Linked DNA regions of Homo sapiens. The protein of the gene in region 1 interacts with the protein of each later gene in a pairwise test. Each region holds a gene or a part of one and is shown in the gene's direction. Other genes may lie near its edges.

Region 1 (3,276 bases):
AAAAAAAAAAATATATATATATATATATATATATATATATATATATATTTTGTGTGTGTGTGTGTGTGTGTGTGTGTGTAGAGATGAGGTCTTGCTATGACTGGTGTCAGCTCCTGGTCTCAAGGACTTCTCCTGTCTCGGTCTCCCAAAGTGCGAGCATCACAGGCATGAGCCACCGTGCCTGGCCTTATTGGCTACTTGAATATCCTTTTTTGTAAAGTGTCCATTTAAGTAATTTGCCCATTTTTCTTTCAGGTTGCCTGCCTCCCTTATTGGTTTCTAGGGATTCTTTATAATTTCTGTAATGAGCCCTTTTTTGATATGTGCATTTTGAGTGTTCCATCCTTCTTGTGGTTGCCTTTTCACTCTCTTCATGGTGTCTGTAGATGAACAGATATTTTATTATTTATTTTCTGGGGAGATAGTATCTTGCTCTGTTACCCAGGCTAGAGTGCAGGGGCATGATCATGGCTCACTACAGCCTCGAACTCCTGGGCTCAAGTGATCCTCCTGCCTCAGCCTCCTGAGTAGCTGGGACTACAGGCATGCACCACTACAACTGGCTTAGATGTTTTAATTTTTTTTTTTTCTTGAGACGGAGTTTCGCCCTGGTTGCCCAGGCTGGAGTACAGTGGCACGATCTTGGCTCACCGCAAGCTCTGCCTCTTGAGTTCAAGCGATTCTCATGCCTCAGCCTCCCAAGGAGCTGGGATTACAGGCTTGAACCACCACGCCTGGCTAATTTTTGTATTTTTAGTAGAGACTCAGGGCGCGCCCCGGGGACCCGCACCGTGTACAGACGGGCTCAGGGCGCGCCCCGGGGACCCGCACCGTGTGCAGACGGGCTCAGGGCGCGCCCCGGGGACCCGCACCGTGTGCAGACGGGCTCAGGGCGCGCCCCGGGGACCCGCACCGTGTGCAGACGGGCTCAGGGCGCGCCCCGGGGACCCGCACCGTGTGCAGACGGGCTCAGGGCGCGCCCCGGGGACCCGCACCGTGTGCAGACGGGCTCAGGGCGCGCCCCGGGGACCCGCACCGTGTGCAGACGGACTCAGAGCCTGCCCCGGGGACCTGCACAGTGTACAGACACACCTGTTCTCTGGTCCTATAATGCTCTATCACTTTAACAAATAGGAAAAACGGAAACTTTATTCAGGGTCCCCCTGCTTCTTCCCTGCAGACATGGTGGAGCTGCTGCTGCTGCAGAACGCACAGGTGCACCAGTTGGTCCTGCAGAACTGGATGCTCAAGGCCCTGCCCCCAGCCCTGCAGGTAGGCTTAGCCCCCAGCAGAACCCTAGGCCAAGGAAACAGGGCCTGGGTGGTTTTTCTTCTGGAAATTTCTGCATCTGTGTAGCTCTGAAAGGGCATTCCTGGCTCAGGTCTACAGTCTGGCTGTGAAGCCCCCATCCCCATCGAGTCCCAGCCCAGATGAGGAATGGGTTGCACAATTTGGGGCGGGGGAGGAGCCTCCTCTGGGAGGATGCTTAGACCCTGCCATCCTGCCTATCACATGGGATCCAGCCCCAGTTAGGAACAGGGCGGGAGTGGAGGTGGGGAGCAGCCTGGGCTGCGTCCTAAGCAGCAGGTGCGTCTGTGGCAGGACCCGCCACATGTGCCCCCGAGGGTCCCACGAGCTGCCAGGCCAAGGCTGCCTGCCGTGCACCACCACCACCACCACCACCATGCTGTGTGGCCACCTGGGGCTGCCACTGTCCTCCAGCCCGCCCCCAGCCTGTGGACGCCTGGCCCACCCTGAGTGTGAGTCACAGAGACCCTGGCCGGGGCACCCTCCACCCCCAGGCTTCCTCAGGGCTGTGGGCTGTGGCGGGACTATGGAAGGGAGCAGGGAGAGACCCTGCCACCACCCGGAGTGGCTACGCGAGTGTGGACTGCAGGCTCCTCCTGGGGAAGCTGGGCAGGCTCGCTTTCTGGTCACGGGGCCATTCCAGGGGGCATCCCTTGCTCCGGGTCCCCTGCAGTGAGGGGCCTGTGAACCCCACCAGGGCAACAGCCCCTCCCAGGGACCCCTCCTTTCCTGTAGGGCGGCGCCGGCCCACCTGGGAGCCTCAGATCCCCCTCTTCCATCACGGAGGTAAAGTTGAGGCCGTGGACGCCACCAGCCTGATGAAATAAAGATTTCATCCAGAAAGAGTTTAAGAAAATCTCAGCTCAGGAGCCAGAACAGAAAAGATCAATAGCTTTAGCCACATGGAAGTGTGAACATCCTGATGGGGAAAATACCACAAAGTCTAATTTAATAACTAGGGACACCTGTGTCCACAGCTGTGGCACAGACTCCCACTAAAGAAGTAGGGGTGCATGGCTCATGCCTGTAATCCCAGCACTTTAAGAGGCTGAGGCAGGAGGATCACTTGAGCTCAGGAATTCGAGACCAGCCTGGGTCACATAGCAAGACCCCGTCTCTACAAAAAATAAATTTAAAAAACTAGCCAGGTGTGGTGATATGCGCCTGTTATCTCAGCAGCTCTGGGGGCTGAGGTGGGAGGATTGCTTGAGCCCAGGAGTTAGAAGCTGCAGTGAGCTCTGATGGAACCACTGCACTATAGCCTGGACCACAGAGCAGGCCCCTGTCTCAAAAATAAAATAAAAAAGTGAAAGAAGCAAGCTGTGTATGACGTGATCCCTTTTGAGTTAATAAAAAAAAAAAAGGGAGAGTGCTAATGCTATAAATGCAGAAATCTCTACATGCTGGTTTGCACAGCTCTTGTTCCTGTAAAGCAAAGGTGAGTGCTGGGCAGTGGAAGGGCGGCTCACTCCCCTCAGTTCAGTTTCCTTCTGTGCTGTGGGGTTTCTTACCATGTGGACAGGCTACCTTGACTATTTCTTTTCTTTACTTTTTGTTACTTTTTTTTTTGGGTGCAATTATGTTTCTTTGCTCTTTTAATGTTGTTTACATATTTTTAAGTAGTATACATAAACTTTCATTCACCCCCTATTAGGACAGATTCTTTCATTCCTGAAGTTCCGCACAAGGAGGAACCCTGTCCCAGTGCTTCCATCTTTGAAAGTTTGCAGGTAGGAGACAGGATGACCAGAGAGTTGCCACTGAGCTGCAGAGCTCCCCAGGGACAGCCACCTGGTGCTGACATGGACGGGCAGGTGTGAACACCGAAGGGCCCAGCGCAGCTACTGGCAGTAACACTCACTTCTCTCAGAACCATCTTTTCGTGCCTCTTGAAGGTGATTCCAGAGACTCTGTGCTCTCGTTAAAAGCTCAAACCAAAGCTCAGACTCCATTTCCTCTTTTCAAGGT
Region 2 (3,655 bases), on another chromosome or scaffold:
AAAACTGAAATAATTTTAGAAATAATTCGACCTCCCTCATTTGTAAATGATGAAAGACTTAAACAATTTCACACAATGAGAAAATGCCAGAACCAGGGCTCGTACCGCTAACTCACATGTTCAACCATCAAAGTACACAGTCCCTATTGGTTTTAGTTCTGCCCTTTTAGATTGGTGGCCCTGCAGATATTTAAAGACAGGCATTATTTTTATCCTCAATCTTCTCTTCTGCTGAGAGGCTTTATCAGGAAAGATGGTAGTGTCTTTTTTTTCTCTCTGCAGGCTGAGGACCTGTTCGTGGAATTTGCACATAAGGCTTCAGCTTTGAACAACTGGTGTGAAAAGATGGAAGAAAACTTGTCAGAGCCTGTGCACTGTGTCTCCCTGAATGAAATTCGGCAGCTGCAGAAAGACCATGAGGACTTCTTGGCCTCCCTGGCTAGGGCTCAAGCAGACTTTAAATGTTTGCTGGAGCTAGACCAGCAGATTAAGGCCTTAGGTGTGCCTTCCAGCCCTTATACCTGGTTAACAGTGGAGGTGCTGGAAAGGACCTGGAAGCACCTATCTGACATCATTGAGGTAACCTGGAACACGGCAGAAACTTCCTTTCACTACAGTGAACATAACCACTTTATTATCCAAGTAAATAGACTTTTGACATAGAAGGAACACTATTAATAACTATACTGGGACAGAAGTCATGAAACATGACTGTCTAAGAAAAACTGGAAAATATGTTTATCATAGGTATACCCTATGCCCCATAATTTGGGCAGTTTCCTGTTTTTGAGTATTGAACAATGATTCTGAGAAGCAAACAGAAGCCCCAAGACATGGTTCTAATGATGAGCTATGAAAAGTTCATGAGGCTTTATATGTATTCATTGTCTACATATCCCCCTCATTCAAGACATTTTCGTTTTTATATACACCTCCAAAAGTGCCTTGCTACGTATGTATTTTTAGCTTTTGTCTGTGTTAATAATGTTCATTATTGAAACTATGAAACATAAAAAGTGTAATAGAAAACTAACCACAATATCACCATTTTTAGATAGTAACTATTGTTTCTAAGGGTAGCAGGCCCTTTAAGGCTGCTTTTGTGTTCATTTAAATTAAATTTCCCCAAAAGAAATTATAAACAGGAGAGGTTTGCTTTTATTACTAGCTTACTTGTTACGGGACTTGGTCTTAGAGGACCCTGCAAGTACTCTTGGGAAATACACAGGCTATCTTTACATTTTAGAGGTGAGAGAGGTTGACTGCATGAAATATGAGCACACAGGCACATACCTGTGGAAGATAGGTTAGACTTGAGAGAGGAAAGATATGCAGTTAAGCCTACAAACCAATTCTCTTATGGCAAAGAAAGGCCTTCGATGTCAGTCACGTTGTCTGTGATTTGGGGTTTTAGGAACGGGAGCAGGAGCTGCAAAAGGAAGAGGCAAGACAGGTCAAGAACTTTGAGATGTGTCAGGAGTTTGAACAGAATGCCAGTACCTTCCTTCAATGGATCCTGGAAACCAGGTGTGCTATGCTACATCCCAAACCATGACCCCTGTGCCACCACCATTTGCCATAGGGATGAAATACATGTTTGAAGGGAAGAGGAGAGACTCTGAGAGCATGTATTCTGCCCTAAAATCCCCATATCTTGCCTATGCTTTATATTTGGAGTTGACTGTTTTCTGAATCAATTCTTGGAAAACCAAGAAATGACAATTTCATCCTTCTGCTTATTATGTACACTTCTGTATTCTCTCCTTGATACTCTCACCTTTCTTTCTGTTGCCTGTAATTTCAGTCCAAAATAATAACAATTTCTTATGTTCACATGCCATATTGCACTTTACAGAGTACTTCCATATCCATTACCTCACTTAACTGTCGGAGCAACCTTGAAAAGCATACAGAGCAGCTCTTATTAGCTCTGTTTCCAAGTGTGGAAAGTTCAAGTAGATAAATTTACTTGCTCAAGGTCACATATATATTTACTGGCATAACCAGAAGCAGAATCTTCTATGAATACCTCATATGAAGCTATTCTGTTGTGTACCTACTAAAGTTCTAATGAGAATCAAGTGAGATAATTTATGTTAATTGTGCTTATTAATAGCAAACTGTTCTGTACCTGAAGATAACATATGTCACATCTTCTGGGGTAAATGACCTAGAAAAAGGAGACTTAGAAGATGTAATATATTAGAATACATGGTCAAAGTTGTATCCAGTAGGTGTGTCAAAACTGTGGTGTTTTGAGGGTTAATGTGGTGGTTTAGACAATTCATGATATATACTTTTCTACATACTCACTGACAACGATAAATGAACAAAAAGAAATCCTATACCATGTCTAAACCATCTGACAGAAGGCAGAGAAGACACAGAACACCCTTCTCTTCCTCTTTTCTTGGTGACTTCATCACATCCTGGCAATGTGTGTCCAACACCAAGCATATTCCTTGACATTGGTGCTCCTTGTCCTGAAGCAAGGAGCTTTATGGGAGACTCTGATCTTCTCAGAGTGGGAGAGGCCTTGGGAACCAGTGGGTGGACAGATTCATGTTTTGTGGCAACAAAAGATTTAAAATGTTTCATAAATCTGAGGAAATGAGATCTTTAAAGTAATCCATTTTAACATATCATCTCCCTTTTCTCTCATGTGATTCCTGTTCCGGACCTCCATGTCCAGGGCTTACTTTCTGGATGGGTCAGTATTTTATGTTATCATCATGTTTGCTTTATTATATTATTATGGAAGAATTCGTTAAGAAAGAGTTAGTGCTGAGACATTTTCATTCCATTGTAATCTGGTAGTATGTAAATAAAAATGTGGAGTGAGAAGGAAAAGCTCATTATATTTCATTCTGCCCTTATACTTCACTAGACGGAATCTTGCCTACATTGCTTAAGTGTGTATTTAAGAAGAATAATTAAGAGGGGTATGTGAAAGCCTTCTCCTAGTCAGAGAAGAACTAGGGAAAGTCTTCCCTTCTCATCAGTCTGGCAAGGTTGTGAAAATTTGGCTCTGTGAAATTTTGCTTCATGTAAGCCACATAACCTTGGAGAAGTTGAAACAGAGGAGCTTCGAGTTGGTATGCATGTATGAAATATTGACCTGTGATGTGATGCATAATGATTTCCTTCGGTTCTTAACTAGATCATTGCTCAAAGAAACAGGAACTCTGGAATCTCAGCTGGAAGCAAATAAAGTAAGTATTGTTTTTTCATTAACTGAAGATATTGCCAAAATTATAAGGAGTGTAAAAATAATCACCTAAGGGAAGCCCAGGTGATACTTTTAGGTATGTATCACCTGAAGTCCATTTTAACCATAGGCCATCACATCATGAATATAAACCTCAGTCTACTTAAATCTCTGAATTTCAATTTCTGCATCTACACAATAGAGTTAGTACCCATTGTAGAGTCACTGTTTGCCCTGAAGAAAGAATTTCATGGGAGACTCTGATCTGCCCAGAGTGGGAGAGGCTTTGGGAACAGTGGGTGGGTGGTTTCACGTTTTGTGGCTACAAAGGATTTAGAACATGATGATGAAGTAAAGGAGCAAATGTAAAAGTGCCCAACACTGGCAAATTTCTGTTATTATATGACGTAGTAAGATGATACAATTGAATCTAATCATCTCTTGACA

Evidence for each region. Proteins that work in one complex are often made in the same cells at the same time.
Region 2: the proteins of C21orf58 (region 1) and SPTA1 interact in a two-hybrid assay, tested with the Homo sapiens proteins (one large-scale study listed by BioGRID).

Annotation. Positions count from the first base shown.
Region 1 is NC_000021.9:46,300,481-46,303,756, reverse strand, and holds the end of C21orf58 (uncharacterized protein C21orf58), read left to right. Parts: intron 1-1,180; coding exon 1,181-1,272; intron 1,273-1,602; coding exon 1,603-1,758; 3' UTR 1,759-2,627; downstream 2,628-3,276.
Region 2 is NC_000001.11:158,617,094-158,620,748, reverse strand, and holds part of SPTA1 (spectrin alpha chain, erythrocytic 1), read left to right. Parts: intron 1-282; coding exon 283-579; intron 580-1,414; coding exon 1,415-1,527; intron 1,528-2,692; coding exon 2,693-2,710; intron 2,711-3,160; coding exon 3,161-3,212; intron 3,213-3,655.